7 linked regions of the Homo sapiens genome follow. The protein of the gene in region 1 interacts with the protein of each later gene in a biochemical or structural test. Each region holds a gene or a part of one and is shown in the gene's direction. Other genes may lie near its edges. The genes, in order: IGSF5, TJP3, GRID2IP, SHANK1, PDZRN4, CARD11 and GIPC2.

Region 1 (3,500 bases):
CGAGGGTACAAATGCAGTTTTGTTACATGGAGATATTGTGCAGTGGGGAAGTCTGGGCTTTTGGAAAGGACTGACTCATGACGTCTGCCATTCATTGGACAAGCTTGTAAATGCCTTTTCCACCCTCTAATGAGAAGCCTTAGGGAAAGTAGAATTCTCCCAAAGTCTCTGGAGGTTCTGAGAAGGCCGACCCTGAATGCAAGATGCTCAGAGCTGGAGTCTTCCGAGTGCAGGAGAAATGCCAGCACCTTTTTATTGAGCCGTGGCGGTGTCCAGGTTGCTCCTTAGTCCCTTGCGTGGTTTTTGTTACAGCTATTTCTTTCTTCTTTTTTTCTTTACTTTTAAAAAATTTCAATAGTTTTTGGGGTACTGGTGGTTTTTGGTTACATGAATAAGTTCTTAAATGGTGATTTCTGAGACGTTAGTGCACCTGTCACCCGAGCAGTGTACACTGTGCCTAATATGTAGTCTTTTATCCCTCACCCCGTTCCTCCCTGAGTCCCCAAAGTCCATTGTGTCATTCTTGTGCCTTTGCATCCTCATAGCTTAGCTCCCACTTATAAGTGAGAACATATGATGTTTGGTTTTCCATTCCTGAGTTACTTCACTTAGAATAATGGCCTCCAGCTCCATCCAAGGTGCTGCAAAATATGTTATTTTATTCCTTTTTTTTTATGACTAAGTAGTAGTCCATGGTGTATATATACCGCATTTTCTTTATCTACTCATTGGCTGCTGGGCATTTAGGTTGGTTTCATATTGTTGCAATTGCAATTGTGCTGCTATAAACATGCATGTGCAAGCGTCTTTTTCATGTAACGACTTCTTTTCCTTTGGGTAGATACCCAGTAATGGGATTGCTGGATCAGATGGTAGTTTTACTTTTAGTTCTTTAAGGAACCTCCTACTGTTTTTCATAGTGGTTGTATAATTTACATTCCCAGCAGTGTAAAAGTATTCCCTTTCACCACATCCACACCAACATTTATGGCTTTGTCTTTTATGATAATTCTTGCAGGAGTAAGGCAGCATCTCATTGTGGTTTTAACTTGCACTTCCCTGATTAGTGATGTTGAGTATTTTTCATATGTTTGTTGGCTGTTTGTATATCTTCTTTTGAGAATTGTCTATTCATGTTCTTTGCCCACTTTTTGATAGACTTATTCTTTTTTTTTTCTTGCTGATTTGTTTTAGTTCCTTGTAGATTCTGGATACTAGTCCTTTGTTGGAGGCATAGTTTGCAAATATTTCCCCCCACTCTGTGGGTTGTGTGTTTACTCTGCTGATTACTTCTTTTGCTGTGCAGAAGCTTTTTAGTTTAACTAGGTCCTATTTATTTAGTTTTTGCATTTGCTTTTGAGGTCTTAGTCATTAATTCTTTGCCTAAGCTAATGTCCAGGCATTTTTTCTGATGCCATTTTCTAGAATTCTTAGAGTTTTGGATCATAGATTTAAGTCTTTCATCTATCTTGAGTTAGTTTTTGTATAAGGTGAGAGATGGGGATCCAGTTTCATTCTTCTATGTGTGGCTTGCCAATTACCCCAGGATCATTTATTTAATAGGGTGTCCTCTCCTCAATTTATTTTTTTTGTATGCTCGGTTGAAGATCAGTTGGCTGTAAGTATTTGGCTTTATTTCTGAGTTCTCTATTTTGTTCCATTAGTCTATGTGCCTATTTTTATACCAGTACCAAGCTGTTTTGGTAAGTATAGCCTTGTAGTATAATTTGAAGTCAGGTAATGTGAAGCCTCCAGATTTATACTCTACAGTTGTTGGGAAGAATGTTCTGTAAATATCTGTAAGTTCCATTTGTTCTAGGGTATAGTTTATGTCCATTGTTTCTTTGTTGACTTTCTGCCTTGATGATCTGTCTAGTGTTATCACTGGGGTATTGAAGTCCCCCACTATTATTGTGTTGCTGTCTGTCTAATATTGTAGGTCTAGTAGTAATTGTTTTTAAAATCTGGGTGCTCCATTGTTAGGTGCATATAAATTTAGGATTGTAATATCTTCTTGTTGGATTAATTCTTTTATCACTATATAATGCCCTTCTTTGTCTTTTTTTTTTTAACTGTTGTTGCTTTAAAGTCTGTTTTGTCTGAAATAAGAATAGCTACTTTTGCTTGCTTTTGGTTTCCATTTGTGTGAAATATCTTTCTCCAACCTTTCACCTTGAGTTTATGTGAGTGCTTAGGTGTTAGCTGAATCTCTTGAAGACAGTAGATATTTGGTTGGTGTTTTTTTGTTTTTTTTTAGTCCATTCTGCCATTTTTAATCTTTTAAGTGGAACATTTAGGCCATTTACATTAGGTCAATATTAAGATGTGAGGTACTGTTGTATTCATCATGTTAGTTGTTACCTAGATACTTCTATTTTTAATTGTGTTATTGTTTTATAGACCCTGTGAGATTTATGCTTTAAGCAGGTTCTATTTGGGTGCATATCAAACTTCTGTTTCAAGATTTAGAACTCCTTTTAGCATTTCTTGTAGTGCTGGTTTGGTAGTGGCAAATGCCTTTAGCATTTTTTGTCTGAAAAAGACTTTATCTCTCATTTATGAAGCTTAGTTTTGCTGGGTATAAGATTCTTGACTGACAATCATTTTGTTTAAAGAGGCTAAAGATAGGACTTCAATCCCTTCTGGCTTATAAGGCTTCTGCTGAGGAATCTGTATGGCTATTTCCCACCAACCTTGAGCAGGCACTTGCCCCCTGTTGTTTGTTTTTGAGCTTCTTGCCGTTGCCCCAAACATGACATTTTCTGCCACTTTTGAAGATTCCATTATCAAGCCATTTCCAATAATCCAAAAATAAGGGGCTGAGTGCGATCTCAAAAGCACCAATTTTCTTTCTGAGAGGACTAGCTTGGTGAGTCCTGGCTGATCTTCTGAGTGTGTTTGCCTCTCGTCAGGACAGGGAGGAATTGGTGGGTGGCTAAATCCTGTCTATTTAATACAGTTTAATAAGACTAAAGACTTTAAGAATAAAAGATTTTTCAACTAAGTGTAGGTAATTCAAGTCTGCTATAATGAAATGAAAGACAAGTTAAATCTCAAGTCCTGTTCAGACTACCCCATAGGGATATTCATGAACAATACCCGGCATATGTCTTTAATTAAAGCAGCTTGTCTGATTTCAGTTAAACTTGAAATCAGCTTTATGACAGTGTTCCAACTGCATACACCCTTCAAATGCTATCCCCTCTCAAATCCATATCTGTAGCAGCCTCACTGCTTGGTTCCTGGAGCTCTGAGGGTGTTTTTGCACTGCCTGCCCTGTGATTCTGCTAGACTCCTCTTTCATACAGAGATGAAATGTGGATGACATGTGAGGGTGTTGGCAGAATGGAGTGTTGAGTAAGTTAAGCAATCTATTCTTAGTCTGTTGCCTGACTCTACCTGCTTGTCGGGGACTAGAAGTCTTTCCTAACAGACCTTAATCTATTGCTGTGTCGTTTTCTGTAACACTGGGTTCACACTTGGCAGTGACTGCTTTTGGT
Region 2 (2,465 bases), on another chromosome or scaffold:
TGGGGTCCACTCTGACCTCAGACTCTTCATCTTTCTATCTTTCTCTCTCTGTTTACCCTGCTGCAATCCCCCTCACCCCAACGTCCGCCGGCCTGGCCCAGGACAAGCATGCGCTCCTGGATGTGACCCCCTCCGCCATCGAGCGCCTCAACTATGTGCAGTACTACCCCATTGTGGTCTTCTTCATCCCCGAGAGCCGGCCGGCCCTCAAGGCACTGCGCCAGTGGCTGGCGCCTGCCTCCCGCCGCAGCACCCGTCGCCTCTACGCACAAGCCCAGAAGCTGCGAAAACACAGCAGCCACCTCTTCACAGGTTGGGGGGTGGGTGTCCCAGGGTAGGCGGGTGGGCCCCAGCCTGAGTCTCCTGCACACACTGACGTCCCCTCCCTGCAGCCACCATCCCTCTGAATGGCACGAGTGACACCTGGTACCAGGAGCTCAAGGCCATCATTCGAGAGCAGCAGACGCGGCCCATCTGGACGGCGGAAGATCAGGTACTGCCGCGGTGTGGGTGGGTCGGGCAGGGAGGCCCCACAGACGCTGTGCAGGCCCAGCTGGGGTTTGGGGCCTCTGTCGGGAGTTAGGGCTTGGTCAGGGATCAGGACTGTGGCCAGAGTCAAGATGGGACCTGAGACAAGGGTGTTGGACTGGAACTTGGGTGAGATGAGATTGGAGGAGCTGTTTTTTGTTGTTTGATTTGAGATGGAGTCTCATGTCACCCAGGCTGGAGTACAGTGGTGTGATCTCAGCTTGCTGCAACCTCCGCCTCCCGGGTTCAAGTGATTCTCCTGCCTCAGCCTCCCGAGTAGCTGGGACTACAGGCGAGCGCTACCAGGCCCAGCTAATTTTTGTATTTTTAGCAGAGACGAGGTTTCACCATGTTGGCCAGGCTGGGCTCAAACTCCTGACCTCAGGCGATCCACCTGCCTCAGCTTCCCAAAGTGCTGGGATTACAGGCCTGAGCCACCGCGCCCAGCCTGGAGGAGCTGTTTTGAGAATGGAGTCAGTGGGGCACGGGAGCTCACGCCCATGGTCCCAGCTACTCAGGAGGCTGAGGCAGGAGAATCACTTGAACCCGGGAGGCAGAGGTTGCAGTGAGCAGAGATTGCGCCACAGCACTCCAGCCTGGCAACAGAGACTCCTTCTCATAAAAAAGAGAGAGAGAATGGAGTCTTCTCTTGGGGCTGGAGTCAAGGTTTGGGGCTCAGCTTGGATTTGGGGGCTGAGCCTCTCAGGTGAAGGGTCAATGGATACAACCCATCCTGGAGTCAACAGAGAAGCCTCCACTGAGGCTCCAGGCTCCAGGCTCCTCGCCTTGATTTGGGACCAGAGTTTGAAGGTGGGGGGATGTCGTGGGTGGCAGCTGGGGTCCTGGCCAGGGCCAGCCGCAGCATCCACACCCACCCCACAGCTGGATGGCTCCTTGGAGGACAACCTAGACCTCCCTCACCACGGCCTGGCCGACAGCTCCGCTGACCTCAGCTGCGACAGCCGCGTTAACAGCGACTACGAGACGGACGGCGAGGGCGGCGCGTACACGGATGGCGAGGGCTACACAGACGGCGAGGGGGGGCCCTACACGGATGTGGATGATGAGCCCCCGGCTCCAGCCCTGGCCCGGTCCTCGGAGCCCGTGCAGGCAGATGAGTCCCAGAGCCCGAGGGATCGTGGGAGAATCTCGGCTCATCAGGGGGCCCAGGTGCGTCGGACATGGGGGGCAGGCCTGGGAAGGGTCTCCGGAGGGGATGCCAGCACAGAGCAGACACACACTGGGAGCCTGTTTTCTACCAGGACGTCAACAAACACGGCTTCCCTGGTCAGACTGGTTTCTGGGACTCAGACCTGGGGTAGCTGAGACCCACGTGGCACTGAGTAACTTGCAGCATTTTTTTTTTTTTTTTTTTTTTGAGACGCAGTCTTGCTCTGTCGCCTAGGCTGGAGTGCAATGGCGCAATCTTGGCTCACTGCAACCTCCACCTCCCAGGTTCAAGCGATTCTCCTGCCTCAGCCTCCTGAGTAGTTGGGATTACAGGCACCTGCCACCATGCCCGGCTAATTTTTGTATTTTTAGTAGAGACGGGGTTTCACCATTGGTCAGGCTGGTCTTGAACTCCTGACCTTGTAATCCACCCGCCTTGGCCTCCCAAAGTGCTGGGATTACAGGCATGAGCCACTGCACCCAGGCTTTTTTTTTTTTTTTTTTGAGATGGAGTTTCGCTTTTGTTGCCCAGGCTGGAGTGCGATGGCGTGATCTCGGCTCACCACAACCTCCGCCTCCCAGGTTCAAACGATTCTCCTGTCTCAGCCTCCTGAGTAGCTAGGATTACAGGCGTGCACCACCATGCCTGGCTGATTTTGTATTTTTAGTACAGACAGGGTTTCTCCATGTTGGTCAGGCTGGTCTGGAACTCCAGCCTCGGCCTCCCAAAGTGCTGGGATTACAGGTGTGAGCCACTGCACCCGGCC
Region 3 (3,500 bases), on another chromosome or scaffold:
GCGCCCGCCATCACGCCCACCTGGCTAATTTTTTTTCTATTTTTAGTAGAGACGGGGTTTCACCGTGTCAGTTGGGATGGTCTCGATCTCCTGACCTTGTGATCCGCCTGCCTCGGCCTCCCAAAGTGCTGGGATTACAGGCATGAGCCACCGCGCCCGGCTGTCTTTCATTTTTTAGAGACAGGGTCTGGTTATGTTGCCCAGGCTGGTCTCCAACTCCTGGCCTCAAGTGATCCTCCCGCCTTGTCCTCCCAAAGCTCTGGGATTATAGGCATGAGCTGCTGTGCCCAGCTTGTTATTTATTTATTTATAGCCTGAGAGAGACTTGAACATTTATATAAGCTGCAGGGAATGGAGAAGTAGATATACTGAAAACCATGCAGGCCGGGCACAGTGGCTCACACCTGTAAACCCAGCACATTGGGAGGCTGAGGCGGGTGGATCACCTGAGGTCAGGAGCTCGAGACTGCCTGGCCAACATGGAGAAACCCTGTCTCTACTAAAAACACAAAACATTAGCTGGTTGTGGTGGCGGGTGCCTGTAATCCCAGCTACTCAGGAGGGTGAGGCAGGAGCGTCGCTTGAACCCGGGAGGCAGAGGTTGCAATGAGCCGAGATCATGCCATTGCACTCCAGCCTGGGCAATAAGAGTGACACTCCATCTCAAAAAAAACAGAAAGAAAAAAGAAAAAGAAAACCATGCATTTACCAGTCATTGATCATGGGCCTATGATGTGCAGGACAGGGGAAACAGCCATGAACAACACAGGCAAGGAGCCTGACTTCACACACCTAACATTACTGCAGGGAAAGAGACAGTAAGCAAGTGGATTAATCAATACACAAGCTATTAAAGATCATGACAGGCCAGGCACGATGGCTCAGACGTGTAATTCCAACACTTTGGGAGGCCGAGGTGGGAGGATCACCTGAGGTCAGGAGTTTGAGACCAGCCTGGCCAACATGGTGAAACCCCATCTCTACAAAAATTACCAAAATGAGCCGGGCGTGGTGGCATTTGCCTATAATCCCAGCTACTTGGGAGGCTGAGTCAGGAGAACTGCTTGAACTCAGGAGGTGGAGGTTGCAGTGAGCCAAGATCCCACCACTGCACAGAGCGACAGAGTGAGCGACAGAGTGAGACTTTCTCTCAAATAATAATAATAATAATAAAATTAAATTAAATTAGCCAAGCACAGTGGCGTGCACCTGTGATCCTGGCTACTCGGAAGGCAGAGGTGGGAGGATCGCTTGAACACAGGAGTTCAAGGCCACAGGGAGCTATGATTGCACCACTGCACTCCAGCCTGGGCAACAGAGCAAGACCCTGACTCCAGAAAAAAAAAGATGATGATGAATAAAGTGGAGGCATAAATAGGGTGAGGTGAGAGTGACGCAACCCACTTTGACAGGGTGGCCAGGAAAGGCTGCCTGATGAGATGATCTTTGAGCTGAAAGCTGAATGACAAGTAGGTGGCAGGAAGAAAGGGGTGGAGACTGGGAATGGTGAGGTGTCTGTGGCCTGGTGATTTGGCCTTGACTACAAAGGGGGCTTTTTTTTTTTTTGAGACAGAGCCTCGCTCTGTCACCAGGCTGGAGTGCAGTGGCACGATCTTGGCTCACTGCAACCTCCGCCTCCCAGGCTCAAGCAATTCTCCTGCCTCAGCCTCCCGAGTAACTGGGATTACAGGCGTTTGCCATCAGATGCTCAGCTAATTTTTGTATTTGTAGTAGAGATGGGGTTTCACCATGTTGGCCAGGCTGGTCTCGAACTCCTAACTTCAGATGATCCACCCACCTTCGCCTCCCAAAGTGCTGGGATGACAGCCGTGAGCCACCGCACCCGGCCGGAAGTGGGCCTCTTCAACCTCTGAGAGCAGAGGATGGAAGGGAAGGATGCGGAGTCTGTTGAGAAGTTTGGAGGTGGATGAGGGTGAGAGAGGCGGGGCCTGACAGCCCCAGTTCAGGCTGAAGTTGCACCCACAAGTCCTCGAGAGAGGGAGACGTGAACGACTCATGGACTCACTCAGCCGCCCAGCCTTGCTTCAGGGTCAGCTCCAGCTGTCAGTGCCCAGAGACAACCAGACCCTCAGCCAACAAGGGAAGGGTCTCATGGAGTATGTGCTTTCAGTGGCTAAACTGTATGACATGTGGGCAATTCGATGGTTTTTAATATATTCACAGGATTGTAACACCCATCACTACCATCCATTTTCAAACAATTTCATCACTCTAACAAGAAATTCTGCACTCCTTAGCCATCACTCCCTATTTCATGGTTTTATTTTCTTATTTATTTATTGAAATGGGGTCTTGATCTGTTGCCCAGACTGTATAGTGCAGTGGCACAATCTTGGCTCACTGCAGCCTCAACTTCCTGAGCTCAAGTGATCCTCTCACTTCAGCCTCACAAGTAGCTGAGACTACAGGCATGCACCACCACATCTGGCTAATTTAAAAAAAATTTGTTTGTAGAAATGGGGTCATGCTATGTTGCCCAGGATGGTCTTGAATTCCTGGTCTCAAACAATCCTCCTGCCTCGATCTCCCTAAGCACTGGGATTACAGGTGTGAACCATTGCCCCCAGCCCTGCCAGGATCTTGCCTCCCACCTACTTTGGGATTTTCTTTTTTCTTTTTTTTTTTTTTTTTTTTGAGATGGAGTTTTTGCTCTTGTTGCCTAGGCTGGAGTACAATGGCAAGATCTCGACTCACTGCAACCTCCGACTCCTGGGTTCAAGCGATTCTCCTGCCTCAGCCTCCCGAGTAGCTGGGATGAATAAAGGCACCCACCACCACGTCTGGCTAATTTTTGTATTTTTAGTAGAGACGGGGTTTCACCATGTTGGCCAGGCTGGTCTCAAACACCTGACCTCAGATGATCCGCCCCCCTTGGCCTCCCAAAGTGCTGGGATTACAGGTGTGAGCCACCGCGCCTGGCTGAGATTTTCCTCTTTGTTTTTGGCCTAGATAGCCAAGAAACTACAAATATCTCCCACATGGATGTACTGCAATTATTTAGCCCCCACTGTCAGATATTTATATTGCTGCCAACGTCTTAGTGTTAGAAATAATACACAGGTGAACCACCTCACTCATACATCATCGTGCATGTGTCTTGTCAGGATGTGTGTAAGATAAATTCCTACATGTGAGATCATTGGGTAGAAGGATGGGCTTTGGACACACTTAACAACCTGCCTTCCAGAAACGTGACCATTTGCATGCTCATTTCCAACATGACCATTTGCATGCTCATTTCCAATGTGCCCATTTGCACACTCGTTTCCAACGTGTGCATTTGCACGCTCGTTTCCACCATGTCTATTTGCATGCTCCTTTCCAACGTGATCATTTGCACACGTTTCCAACGTGTCCATTTGCACGCTCATTTCCAATGGCCACACACTCCTGTGTGCAGATGTGCCTTGATTAGTATCAGCTGGTTTGTGGACAAAGACAAAAGTTTGGAGAGAGAACTGAGGGAGTCAAAATTCAGG
Region 4 (3,500 bases), on another chromosome or scaffold:
GGCCCCGCCGCCCACCCCGCACCACCACTCGCCCCACGCCCACCACGAGCCAGTGCTGCGTCTCTGGGGGGCCTCCCCGCCGGACCCTGCGCGCCGGGAGCTGGGGTACAGGGCCGGGCTGGGCAGCCAGGAGAAGTCCCTTCCCGCCAGCCCGCCCGCCGCCCGGCGTTCCCTGCTACACCGCCTGCCGCCCACCGCTCCCGGGGTGGGGCCCCTCCTGCTGCAGCTGGGGACGGAGCCCCCGGCCCCGCACCCCGGAGTAAGCAAGCCCTGGAGGTCCGCAGCCCCCGAAGAACCCGAGCGGCTGCCGCTGCACGTGCGGTTCCTTGAAAACTGCCAGCCCCGGGCCCCTGTGACGAGCGGAAGGGGTCCCCCCTCGGAGGACGGGCCGGGGGTCCCGCCGCCCAGCCCACGCCGGTCCGTGCCCCCCTCCCCGACCTCCCCGAGGGCCAGCGAAGAGAACGGGCTGCCCCTGCTGGTCCTGCCGCCTCCCGCCCCCTCGGTGGATGTGGAAGATGGCGAATTCCTTTTCGTGGAACCGCTGCCTCCGCCTCTGGAATTCTCCAACAGCTTCGAAAAGCCAGAGTCGCCCCTCACGCCTGGGCCTCCCCACCCGCTGCCCGACACACCTGCCCCTGCCACCCCGTTACCCCCTGTGCCACCCCCGGCTGTGGCCGCAGCCCCTCCCACCCTGGACTCCACCGCATCCAGCCTGACATCCTATGACAGCGAGGTGGCCACCCTGACCCAGGGGGCCTCCGCCGCTCCTGGGGACCCCCATCCACCAGGCCCGCCTGCCCCAGCAGCACCGGCTCCCGCTGCCCCACAGCCTGGCCCGGACCCTCCGCCTGGCACGGATTCTGGCATCGAGGAGGTGGACAGTCGGAGCAGCAGTGACCACCCACTGGAGACCATCAGCAGCGCCTCCACGCTGAGCAGCCTATCTGCCGAAGGTGGTGGCAGCGCAGGGGGTGGGGGCGGGGCTGGGGCCGGTGTGGCCAGTGGGCCGGAGCTTCTGGACACCTATGTGGCCTACCTGGACGGCCAGGCCTTTGGGGGCAGCAGTACTCCCGGCCCGCCATACCCTCCTCAGCTCATGACTCCCTCTAAGCTCCGGGGCCGGGCGCTAGGAGCCAGCGGAGGCCTGCGGCCTGGCCCCAGCGGGGGACTCCGAGACCCTGTTACCCCCACCAGCCCCACCGTCTCGGTGACAGGGGCTGGAACCGATGGGCTGCTGGCCCTGCGTGCTTGTTCAGGACCCCCCACGGCAGGCGTGGCGGGGGGTCCGGTGGCTGTAGAGCCAGAAGTCCCACCGGTGCCCTTGCCGACGGCCTCCTCTCTGCCCCGGAAGCTGCTGCCCTGGGAGGAGGGCCCGGGCCCACCGCCACCACCTCTGCCCGGGCCCTTGGCCCAGCCTCAGGCCTCAGCCTTGGCCACAGTAAAAGCCAGCATCATCAGTGAACTCAGCTCCAAGCTTCAGCAGTTTGGGGGCTCCTCGGCAGCTGGCGGCGCTCTGCCCTGGGCCCGAGGAGGCAGTGGGGGAGGCGGAGACAGCCACCACGGGGGAGCCAGCTATGTCCCCGAGAGGACCTCCTCCCTGCAGCGGCAGAGGTAAGCGGGGGCTGGTGGCCAACAAGGGAGGCCAGAGGTGTTGATGGCATGGCTGTGTCCCTTTAGGGTCTCAGGGTGGCAGAAAGGAAACAGAAACCAGGTTGGCAGGAGTTTGCTGTCACAGAAGCATGCTTTCACAAATATTTTCTTTTTCTTTTTTTTTTTTTCTTTTCTTTTCTTGAGAGGGAGTTTCACTCTTGTTGCCCAGGCTGGAGTGCAATGGCGTGATCTCGGCTCACCACAACCTCTGCCTCCCGGGTTCAAGCGATTCTCCTGCCTCAGCCTCCCATGCCACCACACCCAGCTAATTTTGTATTTTTAGTAGAGATGGGGTTTCTCCATGTTGGTCAGGCTGGTCTCGAACTCCCAACCTCAGGTGATCCATCCGCCTTGGCCTCCCAAAGTGCTGGGATTACAGGCATGAGCCAACATGCCTGGCTTTTTTTTTTTTTTTAGAAACAGGGTCTCACTCTGTCACCCGGCTGGAGTGCAGTGGTGTAATCATAGCTCACTTGCAGCCTCAAACTCCTGGGCTCAAGCAATCCTCTGGGACTATAGGTGCACGCCACTATGCCTGGCCAATTTTTCTTTTCTTCTTCTTTTTTTTTTTTTTTTTTTTTTTTTTGAGACAGAGTCTCACTCTATTGCCCAGGCTGGAGTGCAGTGGTACAATCTCAGCTCACTGCAACTTCTGCCTCCCAGGTTCAAACGATTCTCCAGCCTCAGCCTCCTGAGTAGCTGCGATTACAGGTGCCCGCCACCATGCCCGGCAAATTTTTGTATTTTTAGTAGAGATGAGGGGTTTTGCCACGTGGGCCAGGCTGGTCTTGAACTCCTGACCTAAGGTGATTCATCCCACCTCGGTCTCCCAAAGTGCTGAGATTCCACACATGAGCCAGCATGCCTGGCCCTGGCCATTTTTTCTTTAACTTTTTGTAGAGACAAGCTACGTTGACCAGGCTAGTTTCAAACTCCTGGGCTTAAGTGATCCTCCTGCCTTGACCTCCCAAAGTGTGATTACAGGTGTAAGCCACTGGGTCCAGCCTTTAAATTTCCATTTATTTCAGTAGCTTCTGTTGTCTCTGCCCATCACCATCACAACCTACATCCCATGATGAACAAAAAGTTATTAACAGGCTGGGCGTGGTGGTTCACGCCTGTAATCCCAGCACTTTGGGAGGCTGAGGCGGGTGGATCATGAGGTCAGAAGATCGAGACCATCCTGGCTAACACGGTGAAACCCCATCTCTACTAAAAAAAATACAAAAAATTAGCCGGTCATGGTGGTGGGCACCTGTAGTCCTAGCTCCTCAGTAGGCTGAGGCAGGAGAATAACTTGAACCCGGGAGGCCGAGGTTGCAGTGAGCCAAGATTGCACCACTGTGCTCCAGCCTGGGTGACAGAGTGAGACTCCGTCTCAAAAAAAAAAAGTTATTAACAAAGGAGACTGGAGTGAGACCTGCTTATGTTTGTTTCCTTGGTGAGCTGCCACTTCTTTCTGACAGTCCCTGAAATCTGTGAGTCCCTTGAAGCCAGTGTGGTTCAAGACAGGATGCAGTTATAGGTGTGGTTCTAGAGCCCACCTTCTCAGCTTCCAGTCCCAACCCTGCACTTTCTACCTGGGTGATCTTAGGCAAATGAATCCACCTCTCTGTAGAAGTGGAATGGCCTAGTGCCAGCCCAAAGAGTTTTTGAGAGGATTTAGTGTGTGCCATTGTTGTAACATGGGATGGGGGAAGAGGGGGCCTCGAACAAGAGCCCAGCAACTTCTACGTGGGGAAATACGGGATGATGCAGATGCTTCCCAGAGCAGCCAGTCAGCTGCATCGTCGCAGAATTCGAGCCCATTCAAGACCTTCTAGTCCTAGAGAAAGTAGAGTTACATTTCT
Region 5 (3,939 bases), on another chromosome or scaffold:
TAGAGAATTACAAGCTTTCCAGGAACAAGGCTCAACTGGCAGCAAGGAATCATCAATGATTAATTTATAAAACCCACCCAAGCATCTGGTGGCAGCTTCAGGATAATGGCAGTAAGTGATATGCAGCCAGGTGACAGGATCTCTGCATTCCTAAGGTTCAGAAGATGGTAAAGGAAGTGGAGTAAGAAGGGTTTGGAATGACGCCCTACTGCGTGTTTTCAGGACGGCTTGTCATGCTACACAATTTGAGGAGTCAAACTAGGAGGGGAGGCAATTTGGATCCAAAGGGTTCATTCAGGGTAAGTAGAAGGAAGCAGCCACTAAGATTTTATTTATATGTTATTTCACTGCTTTCTTTCATCATCCTTCCCTTTAATTTTCCCTTCCAGGTTCCCAAATGATCACATTCCCGTCCCCAGTAGTAAAACGCCCGTGGAAGTAGAAGATGGATGCTGTGGCAACTGAACCTGGAGTCAGACTCAGAATCCCAGCTTCCTCACTCGGGAGGAGGCCTTGCATGGCTGTTCATGGGCTCCCTAAGAAGGCAGTGTCCTGAGGCGGGCCCTTGACTTTTTCCCCATCTTTGCTGCTAGGTCAAGGATCGCGCCATTCTAACTCACCTGATTTCTGGATCACGGTTTGAGAAGCCTGGCCCTGTGGATTTCCTAGTGTTATTTTCCTTATAGTGATTTCCTAAGGTCACAGTTTCCTAACTTCTGATTTTGTAGTTTTGATGTGAAAGAACAAAAGTGCTTCGATTTCAAACATATTGGAGATAGACTCGACGCCGGGCGGGCCATGGGCATTCAGCGGAAAACCAGACAGACAAAAAGATTCTGCTCTCCCGAAGCTTACATTGTGGTGAATTTAAAAGTTGTTTCTCAACATTAGCGCTTTACCCATCAGCAGCCCTGCCCAGGGCGAGGCGCCTCGATGCTTGAAGTTCACTGTTCAGGCGAAGGAGAACACAGTGTTCCCAAGGACCATTGTAAGCTGGGCGGCCAAAATTTGAAAGAACATAAATCGCAGGGCAACGAAGGAGGCGGGGGTCTCTGGAGGTTACTTCTATTAGCGTCAATACGGGCGAAATCAGGGGACCTAGCAGGAGCCTGAAAACTTCAAGCCAAACAAACAGTGAGATCACACCTCCCACCCGCCACCTCCCTCCACTGCCGCCGCCGCGAGACGGCTGCCCCGGGGGTGGCCCGGGGAAGGCAGGGGGGCTCGGAGAAGACGGACTCTGCTTTCGCTCCCCCTTTCTTCCCCATCCCTAACATGGGCTTTGCCCTGGAGCGCTTCGCAGAAGCCGTGGACCCGGCTCTGGAGTGCAAACTGTGCGGCCAGGTGCTTGAAGAGCCCCTGTGCACGCCGTGCGGGCACGTCTTCTGCGCCAGCTGCCTGTTGCCCTGGGCGGTGCGGAGGCGCCGGTGCCCGCTGCAGTGCCAGCCCTTGGCGCCCGGCGAGCTGTACCGGGTGCTGCCGCTGCGCAGCCTCATCCAGAAGCTGCGAGTCCAGTGCGACTACCGCGCCCGCGGCTGCGGCCACTCGGTCAGGCTGCACGAGCTGGAGGCGCACGTCGAGCACTGCGACTTCGGCCCTGCCCGCCGGCTCCGCAGCCGCGGGGGCTGCGCTTCGGGGCTGGGCGGTGGTGAGGTGCCCGCGCGGGGGGGCTGCGGTCCGACACCCAGGGCTGGCCGGGGCGGGGGCGCGCGCGGGGGGCCGCCGGGCGGCCGCTGGGGCCGCGGGCGGGGACCCGGGCCTCGGGTCCTCGCCTGGAGGCGGCGCGAGAAGGCGCTGCTGGCGCAGCTCTGGGCGCTGCAGGGCGAGGTGCAGCTCACGGCGCGCAGGTACCAGGAGAAGTTCACCCAATACATGGCTCACGTCCGCAACTTCGTCGGCGACCTCGGTGGCGGCCACCGCAGGGTAAGCAAAGGGGGGTGGGCACCGCGGGCATGGTCGATTGGGGTGGGAAAAGGAGCGGTTCTTTCTGACGCTTCAGGATTCCTTTGGAATTGGGCATCCTTCCTCACTATGCAGCAGGAAACATCCACACCCTGATCATACTTTCCTGTCATTATCTTACGAATGGATTGGCGTCGAAGTTAAGGATTGTCCCTTTTCTGATTATATTACGATTGGAAAGAGTTAAACAGATTCGATTCTAACTTTCCCCCGGGAAAGTAGGAATTGTGAAAACTCATTTTCCATCCAGACTCTCGTTTTCCATCTTTCACCCTCCTGCCCACCGTCTCTGCCTATTTTTTGAGCACTTGTCCCGTGCCTGAAGCAAATCCGAGAAGGAAAGACAGAAAGCGAAGACTTTCCCGGCCCAGCCTTTCCTCTCCCGCGGCCACCAGCATCCCCGCGGCCCTGGCAGCCGCGCACGCACACCTGGGACTGGTGTCAGCGTTGATGACACTTGCGCTGCCACTGCCTGAATCAACTGCCTTCTATTAAGTTGGGGACTGTGAGGCACGTTGGGGCCAGGACAGCCTCAGGAGTTGAGAGATGGGGTTTCTTAGACTTGCAGAGTTCATTTCATCACTCTGACTTTCCCTAAATAAGCCTTCCTTGCCTCGGGATCTCATTATTGGTGGAGAGAGAGAGAGAGATTGAGATTGTGTGTGTGCGACCTGGGAAGTCCAGTCCGAGAACCTCCATCTGTGGTCAGACCGGCCCTGCGAGCCCCCAGGCAGCGGTTGTTTCCCTTCTTTGTCTAAGCTGCTGGCCCCGAACTGCGCTCCTGGTCCTCCCGCCGGCTTTCATACCGAATAAACAAGCCTCTTTGCAGCATCCCGTGTGAAGAGGCTTGTTTATAAAGCTGTTACTTCTCTCCTGGAGGACTTCTGCACAGTGTCTGACATTGTTGGTCGCTGCCATGGTGAGCAGGGATTTAGCAGAATTTGCGCACCATTCAAGGAGCTGTTTTCATTCTTCAGCACTCCCGGGGAGGAGCAACCCAGAAAGATTCCCATTTGGGACTGGCTGCTCCACACTGCCTCTAACTCAGGCACTGAGTTTAGAAGCGCCCGTCTTGAACGTAAAAGAGAAAATTGAAGTGAGAGGGACTAAAATGTTTCTACCTTGATGAATGGAAGCACGTTGTGTATTAAACGACCGGTTTCAAGGAGTATTTCTCTAGTTCATATATGCATATACATATACGCATATATACAGGTAAATTTACAAAACGGGAGGACCCGGGGAAAAGCACAGATAGAAGCTTTGTATTACCAGTCCAGGTTTCAAGGTCGTAGGAAACCAATGGTTGAAGGAAAGGAGGAACAGCTAGAATAATATTACAGAAAAGTCCATGCAACAAGTCAAGCTATGATTCTGAGAAGTGAGAAAAACTGCCCATGATTTGCAGACTAGCCAAAACCTTCTATGTGTTCCTCAGAAGTGTTTTTCTACTACCAGTAGGGGCTGCTCTGCGCATTGCCTGGGAAAAGCTCCTGGGAAAATATCTTGATGCTGATAGCAGTGATGATGATGCATATGTTCTGAATGTTATCATTCAGAAATAGTTTCCAAGTAAAGGTTAATAACATCTACAACCATGAATAAACCCACCTAGTCCAGCACTAATTCATCCTATGTGTAAGTTAGTCTTTACTAATAAACATTGTAGCTATAATTCATATTTGTTTTACTATTATTTGGCCAGCAGGAAAAAATACATACTACTTTACCTAGCACAAACCCTTATTTTTTTATTCTGCAGGAATTATGCAAAACCAAATAGGAATATTATTTAAAATTAGGACTACAGTAGCCTAACAGATCCTGCATTACAACAGCAACATGAATGTTATGACTATAATTTATAAATAGTTCCAGTGTTTCTTAAATTCCTTAAGACTTTACAAAATAAAAATTTTACACTATTGATAATTTATATTTTACTTTTCTGTAATGGAGGGAAAAATAAAGATACCT
Region 6 (3,500 bases), on another chromosome or scaffold:
CAAGGAGACCCTGGGCGAGGGGGGTCATTCCCACCTCCAGACACGAGTGCTAGACTGCGTTCAGTTTGTGAAATTCACTGAGCTGCATGCTTAGAATGCTGTGTTTATGTTCTATTCCAATGCAAAGTTTGATGTTTTATTTATTTAGAGACTGGGGCTCGCTCTGTTGCCCAGCCTGGAGTGCAGGGCATGATCCCGGCTTACTGCAGCCGCGACTTCTAGGCTGAAGCAACTCTCCCGCCTCTGCCTCCCGAGTAGCTGGGACTACAGTTACTCACCACCATGCCCAGCTAATGATTTTCTAATTTTTTTAGAGATAGGGTCTTGTTATATTGCCCAGGCTGGTCTCGAACTCCTAGCGTCAAGCAATCCTCCCACCTCCCAAAGTGCTGGGATTGCTGGCATGAGCCACCATGCCAACATTTGGTGGAATTTTTTTTTAAGTGATGCCTTCAGCAAAGCAGAAATTGCCCTTTCTCAAAATGATGAGCTCATGGTTGAGAACCTTGCAGATACTCCTGGGACCTGCCAGCCTCGCCGCCTCACCCTTCATGTGTTCCCTACCCTCTTACTTGAAGGCTGGCTAGGGTAGCAGGTGTTTTGGGGTGTGTGTGTGTGTGCGTGTGTGTGTATGTGTGTGTGTGTGTGTTTGAGACAGTGTCTCACTCTGTCACCCAGGCTGGAATGCAGTGGCACCATCTCGGCTCACCGCAACCTCCACCTCCCGGGTTCAAGTGATTCTCCTGCCTCAGCCTCCCGAGTAGCTGGGATTACAGGCGTGGGCCACCGCACCCAGCTAATTTTTATACTTTTAGTAGAGACAGGGTTTTGCCGTGTTGGCCAGGCTGGTCTCGAACTCCTGACCCCAAGTGATCGGCCCGCCTGGGCCTCCCAAAGTGCTGGGATTACAGGCGTGAGCCACCACGCCCGGCTGGTAGCAGGTGTTTCATTCAAACTCATTCACGCCACCTGGTTCACCCCGTCCGGGGCCTCATCTCTGCCCATGAACATCACTGTGGTCAGCAGAGTCCTGGAGTGTCCAGACTCATGTGGGGGTCTCATCTCCTGGATCAGCGGCAGGTGGCTTTCAGGGCTCCCGCCCCGCTATAGACCCCAACCCTGCATCCAGGCCCCGCTGCAGGCACCTTCACAGGAGCGGGAGGTGGGTGGGCTGCTGCTGACCAAAGCCGCTGTGCCCGCAGAACAAGCACTGCCTGCTGGAGGCTGGGATCGGCTGCACAAGAGACTTGATCAAGTCCAACATCTACCCCATCGTGCTCTTCATCCGGGTGTGTGAGAAGAACATCAAGAGGTTCAGGTAGGGCTCCCAGACCCCTAAGGGCTGTCCCCTCCTGTCCCTAGCACCCCACCAAGCCTCCATGGATCGCAGGAGGCCTGTGTGCCCCCACCTCATGCACCCCTTTTGTAAACCCTCACCAAGTACGGGACTGACCTTGCAGAGCTGATGCCAAGGACAGCGGCCGAGATGGTGACTCACATATGGGGCGCATCCCAGGGGACAAGAGCTGGGAGGGACGGGGCGGAGTGCCCATCACCCAGGGTGGTCCGGGAAGGCCTGGGGTATCCATCAGCGAGACCCATGGCAGTGAGGGGGGCCTAGGAGATGAGAAAGAAGACGCAATCTGGGCAGCAGGGGAACAGCTGGTGCTCAGACCCTGAGACAGATGTTTGGGCGGAATGGTGAGGGACGGAGGGGTGAGGGGCGGAGTGGTGAGGGACAGAGGGGTGAGAGGCTGAGGAGTGAGGGGCGGAGGGTGAGGGACGGAGAGTGAGAGGCTGAGGGGTGAGGGGCGCAGGGGTGAGAGGCAGAGGGTGAGGGGTGGAGGGGTGAGGGGCGCAGGGGTGAGGGGCGGAGGGGTGAGAGGCTGGGGAGTGAGGGGCAGAGGGTGAGGGACAGAGGGGTGAGAGGCTGAGGAGTGAGGGGCGGAGGGTGAGGGACGGAGAGTGAGAGGCTGAGGGGTGAGGGGCAGCGGGTCCAGGCCATGCAGGGCCACGGGAGGCTGCGACATCTTGTTCTGGGTGCATCTGGAGGCCACTGAAGGTGGCATGGTCCACTTTAGGGTATAAACGCACCTCTCACCTCTGGACACGGGCAGGGTGGCGGTGTGGGCCGGGCTTCTGTCTGAGAGGCGATGAGAGGCAGTCTGACTCCGAATCCGTGTTCAGGGTCGAGCCTGCAGGATTCGGGAAAGGGTTCACTCTGGGGTTCCAGAGAACCAGAGGCTGGGCGCGGTGGCTCACGCCTATAATCCCCACACTTTGGGAGGCCAAGGTGGGCACATCAGCTGAAGTTGGTAGTTTGAGACCAGCTTGGCCAACATGGTGAAACCCCATCTCTACTAAAAATACAAAAAAAATTAGCTGGGCGTGGTGGCGGGCACCTGTAGTCCCAGCTACTCAGGAGGCAGAAGCAGGAGAATCGCTTGAACGTGGGAGGGGCAGGTTGCAGTGAGCTGAGATCGAGCCACTGCACTCCAGCCTGGGCGACAGAGTGAGACTCCATCTCAGAAAAAAAAAAACAAAAAAAAAAAAACGAAAGGACGGCGCTGAGGTTTGGGGCCTGGGTGATGAGGACAGACTGGCCCTTAAGTGGCTTCATCTCGGATCCCCGCCCCTCCTCGCACGCACCTGCAAAATAAATGTCCTGCCACCATTTTGCAGAGGGAATCACAGACTGAGAGTTTAGGCCCATTCATTCCTTTTCACCAGATACTCACTGAGCCATTGTGAAGGGTTAGGCTCTGGGGAACGCAGCAGTGAGCAAAAGAGACGGGCATCCCCCTCGATACCTCACACCCGTTAGGCTGGCCAGGACCAAAAGGACAGAAACTGACAAGTGTTGACGAGGAGGGTAGACGTCGGAACCCGGTGCACAGCTGCTGGAAATGCAAAAGAGAGCGGCCACTGTGGAGGACAGCATGGCGATGCCCCCAAAAATTAAAAATAGAATACTATATAATCCAGCAACCCCACCTGCGGGCATATCCCCAAGAGAATTGAGAGCAGGGTCTGTAAGAGACATATACACGCCCGTGTTCACAGCAGCGTTACTCCCAATAGCCAAAACGTAGACGTCACCTAAGGGTCGGTCTGTGGGGAGTGAATACACACAATAGGGCCCATCCATACAGGCTAGGAAGGTGGCAAGAGCTGAAAACCTTGCAAACTGTTAACAAAAAAAGAGTTGAAACAAAGAAACAATAATACATTTAATGCATGAGAAATACTAGCATGGTACATACCCCCTTCCCTGATCTGTCCTGCCTGGGAATGTGTTTATGGTGCAGTGTGTATCACAACAAAAATACTGTATGGAGTATTTTTTTTTTTTTGAGACGGAGTCTCACTCTGTCACCCAGGCTGAAGTGCAGTGGCACGATCTCGGCTCACTGCAGCCTCCACCTCCCAGGTTCAAGAGATTCTCCTACCTCAGCCTCCCGAGTAGCTGGGATTACAGGTGCCCACCACCATGCCTGGCT
Region 7 (2,989 bases), on another chromosome or scaffold:
AAGCAAAATTCTGAACTGGAGTTCTACTTCAGCAGTACTTCACCTTAACATTCTGGCTACTCTTCTTTTACATCCTGGCTATGAGACCAGAGTTCTGGACTTCACTTTCCCCAGTGCATGCTAACTGTGCCTGTGCAAAAAGTATGTAAGTGTAATTACACACCCTCCTCTTGCACCACCCATTCACTAGCATTTATTATGCATGAGACACTGAATTAGTTACTACGGGCATAAAAGACTGAGTAAGCTACTCAAGATCTGTTGGGAGTTTATTCTTTTAGTAGGAGAGAAAAAAATACACAGAAAAATAAATGTCAGTGCAGAGCAATGTTGAATTTGCAGTCTAAGACCTTTTTATTGAAAGTGTTTCCTGAGGACCAGCATCACCTGGGAGTTGAAAATGCAGAATCTCAGGGCTGCAGAACTACTGAACCAAAATCTCCATTTTGCCAAGATCCTAGGTGATTTGTTTGTGCATTTAAGCATGAAAAACACTGGCAGAAGGGTTTAGAGAATGGGGATATCTCTTCCAGCTGTGGACAAAGGATTTCATGGAGGAGAGAGCCTTGAAGGAGAGAAGGATTTTGATGGTGGTGCTGGTGGCTAGGAGGAGGTTATCCTGGGCAAAGGCAGAAAGCAGCGAAGATAGCATTTTGAGTGGTCAGATTTATGAGGGTACAGCATTAATGTAGTGTAGTGTAGTGAGAACCAAGGGTTCTGTAGATTAGACTGCCACTAGGGTTTAGTTTTAAAGATAAACATTGGTTACACAAGGAAAAAAAAATTGTGTGTGTGTGTGTGTGTGTGTGTGTGTGTGTGTGTGTATGTATGTATTATGGATTCATGGCTTCCTGTTCTATTCACTGGAGTTATAATATATTACCATCATTACTTATTTGGATATTTAAATTATCCCTGATTTGGTCAGTGTGAACTCTTGCACTCTGACATCTATATCCTTTTCACATGTTCCCATCATTTTGTGACACTTTCTTACTTTCTGGTACAAGATAGTCTTGGTTCATATTGCACTTTGCCTGCTCTAGCCCTGGAATCTGCCATTTTTCTGAGGAAGTCTTAGTCTTTCTAATGGAGAATGGTATTTAAGAACCAAGATTTCGGTGCTTTGTGTACTCATTGTAGTTGGGATGTCATGCTTCCAGGACTGAGGAATGTGTATACACATGCATGTATGCATTTATGTCTGTATTTTTATAACACCTCAATTGGAGATATATATATATTTCCAGTGATATCTACAATTCTAATTCCATAGGGTTCATTCTTATTTTCTCCCTTTCCCTATTTATCCTTTTCTGGCAGTGACAAACTTGATTCCTGTTGTTCTGTATGTATGTGTCTGTGTATGTGTGTATGTATGTGTGTGTGTGTGTGTGTATGTATGTGTGTGTGTATGTATGTGATCCATCTCCATATGTGTAACTAATCTCTTATCACCGTGGCTGCTGCCCTCCCTCCCCATTCCCATGCCATCCTCACCACATCTGTACTCTCCCACCCCATGCCAGGCTGCCTGGCCATATAGAAGCCCTCCTTACCTTACTAGAGGTTTGATCCCTCTACTAGTTCACTGCACCCCCACCCTACTTCTGCTCTGATCCTGGTGCTCTTCTGTAGGCCACATCTCTCCCTTTTCTTCCTAGCCTGCCTTGTGTTAGGACTGAACTGATGGGAAGAGGCATAGCTTTTATCTCTCTAGACCTTGTGGCTCGTTCAGAGAAGTCATACAAACTTGGATTAGTTCATCCTTAACCTGGAAGGAAAGGAGATGCTGGAGCTTTTCCCTGGGGCTTTGGCGTTTCCCTTTCACATGGAGGTTTTTCACCCAAGTCCCACATCACATATACACCATCTCTTTCTGGTTGCTGGTGCTTCTAGGGTGCTGAGTGGAAATCCACTGAGCCTCTTGGGCTCCCAGACAGCTGGGGCAAGTCCTAAGTACTCCTGAAGATGCTGGTTCCAAGACATAGAATATGGAACCCAGGCAACTTAGTAGAAAAACTGAACAAGGCCGCCACTTTCATGTTCTATCCCAAACTGGAGAGGGGCTCAGAAAAGGTACCTTGATTCCACAGGTAGACAGATGTCTTCCTCTGCTTCTCCCCAGCTTGACTGCTCCAGTGCAAGCTGTCATCCTTTGTCTTTTTGTCTTTGGGCAGGGAGGACTGGACTCCATCTCAGTTGGCAGTGGGGGACTGGTGGAGGAGGGAGGGAGAGTAGTGACTATTAGGAGGTTGGGGAAGGGGTGTTCTTTAAGTTTCCTGCTAGGGTTAGTCACAGCCACAGGGTTTCTTTCAGGGGATCTTGTTCTACCCATGGGAATGCCAGAGGTTCCCAACTGATGGGCTCCAAGGTTGGGTAGGGGGCAAGGGTGGCAGCTGCAAACCTGGGTTCAGTGGACACATTGTTGAAAAGTATCTTTGCCACCTTGATGTGTGTGTGTGAGAGAGGGTATCTTACTGTTTTAATTTGCATTTAATTTTGCATTTAATTTGAAATATATTTATGCATGTTACTTTTAGCAAGTAATTTTCCTGTTGCCATTTTTCTCAGTCCTTTGATGCTATTTCATTTATTGTTAATTTTTTAATATTATTTTTGATAGCCACCACAATGTTTGAAGCTGGAAAGGACAAAGTAAATCCAGATGAATTTGCTGTGGCACTTGACGAAACTCTTGGAGACTTTGCGTTCCCAGACGAATTTGTCTTTGATGTTTGGGGAGTCATTGGTGATGCCAAACGAAGAGGATTATGATGTGTACACTCCATCTCTGAAGAAACAACCCATCGTTCTTTTTTTTCTCTTTTTTAAAAAGTCCTATAAGATCTGTTTTTGGACACCTTTACTAACTCTGGTTTAATTTCATGTGTATGGAATATATTCTTTGAAATATAATTTTGGTAATTTTGATTTCTGGGCACTTTTTAACATTGCTGATGTAGTATGCTTAAGAGAAATGACCTAA

The links.
Region 2: the proteins of IGSF5 (region 1) and TJP3 interact in a test that uses a peptide from one of them, tested with the Homo sapiens proteins (one large-scale study listed by IntAct).
Region 3: the proteins of IGSF5 (region 1) and GRID2IP interact in a test that uses a peptide from one of them, tested with the Homo sapiens proteins (one large-scale study listed by IntAct).
Region 4: the proteins of IGSF5 (region 1) and SHANK1 interact in a test that uses a peptide from one of them, tested with the Homo sapiens proteins (one large-scale study listed by IntAct).
Region 5: the proteins of IGSF5 (region 1) and PDZRN4 interact in a test that uses a peptide from one of them, tested with the Homo sapiens proteins (one large-scale study listed by IntAct).
Region 6: the proteins of IGSF5 (region 1) and CARD11 interact in a test that uses a peptide from one of them, tested with the Homo sapiens proteins (one large-scale study listed by IntAct).
Region 7: the proteins of IGSF5 (region 1) and GIPC2 interact in a test that uses a peptide from one of them, tested with the Homo sapiens proteins (one large-scale study listed by IntAct).

The regions. Positions count from the first base shown.
Region 1 is NC_000021.9:39,751,683-39,755,182, forward strand, and holds part of IGSF5 (immunoglobulin superfamily member 5), read left to right. Parts: intron 1-3,500. UniProt on the Homo sapiens protein: Provides, together with MAGI1, an adhesion machinery at tight junctions, which may regulate the permeability of kidney glomerulus and small intestinal epithelial cells. Mediates calcium-independent homophilic cell adhesion.
Region 2 is NC_000019.10:3,746,384-3,748,848, forward strand, and holds part of TJP3 (tight junction protein ZO-3), read left to right. Parts: intron 1-101; coding exon 102-312; intron 313-392; coding exon 393-493; intron 494-1,410; coding exon 1,411-1,698; intron 1,699-2,465. UniProt on the Homo sapiens protein: TJP1, TJP2, and TJP3 are closely related scaffolding proteins that link tight junction (TJ) transmembrane proteins such as claudins, junctional adhesion molecules, and occludin to the actin cytoskeleton.
Region 3 is NC_000007.14:6,541,462-6,544,961, reverse strand, and holds part of GRID2IP (delphilin), read left to right. Parts: intron 1-3,500.
Region 4 is NC_000019.10:50,664,303-50,667,802, reverse strand, and holds part of SHANK1 (SH3 and multiple ankyrin repeat domains protein 1), read left to right. Parts: coding exon 1-1,611; intron 1,612-3,500. UniProt on the Homo sapiens protein: Seems to be an adapter protein in the postsynaptic density (PSD) of excitatory synapses that interconnects receptors of the postsynaptic membrane including NMDA-type and metabotropic glutamate receptors via complexes with GKAP/PSD-95 and Homer, respectively, and the actin-based cytoskeleton.
Region 5 is NC_000012.12:41,187,181-41,191,119, forward strand, and holds the start of PDZRN4 (PDZ domain-containing RING finger protein 4), read left to right. Parts: upstream 1-1,139; 5' UTR 1,140-1,275; coding exon 1,276-1,923; intron 1,924-3,939.
Region 6 is NC_000007.14:2,907,868-2,911,367, reverse strand, and holds part of CARD11 (caspase recruitment domain-containing protein 11), read left to right. Parts: intron 1-1,202; coding exon 1,203-1,318; intron 1,319-3,500. UniProt on the Homo sapiens protein: Adapter protein that plays a key role in adaptive immune response by transducing the activation of NF-kappa-B downstream of T-cell receptor (TCR) and B-cell receptor (BCR) engagement.
Region 7 is NC_000001.11:78,132,966-78,135,954, forward strand, and holds part of GIPC2 (PDZ domain-containing protein GIPC2), read left to right. Parts: intron 1-2,083; exon of another isoform or gene 2,084-2,216; intron 2,217-2,626; coding exon 2,627-2,778; 3' UTR 2,779-2,989.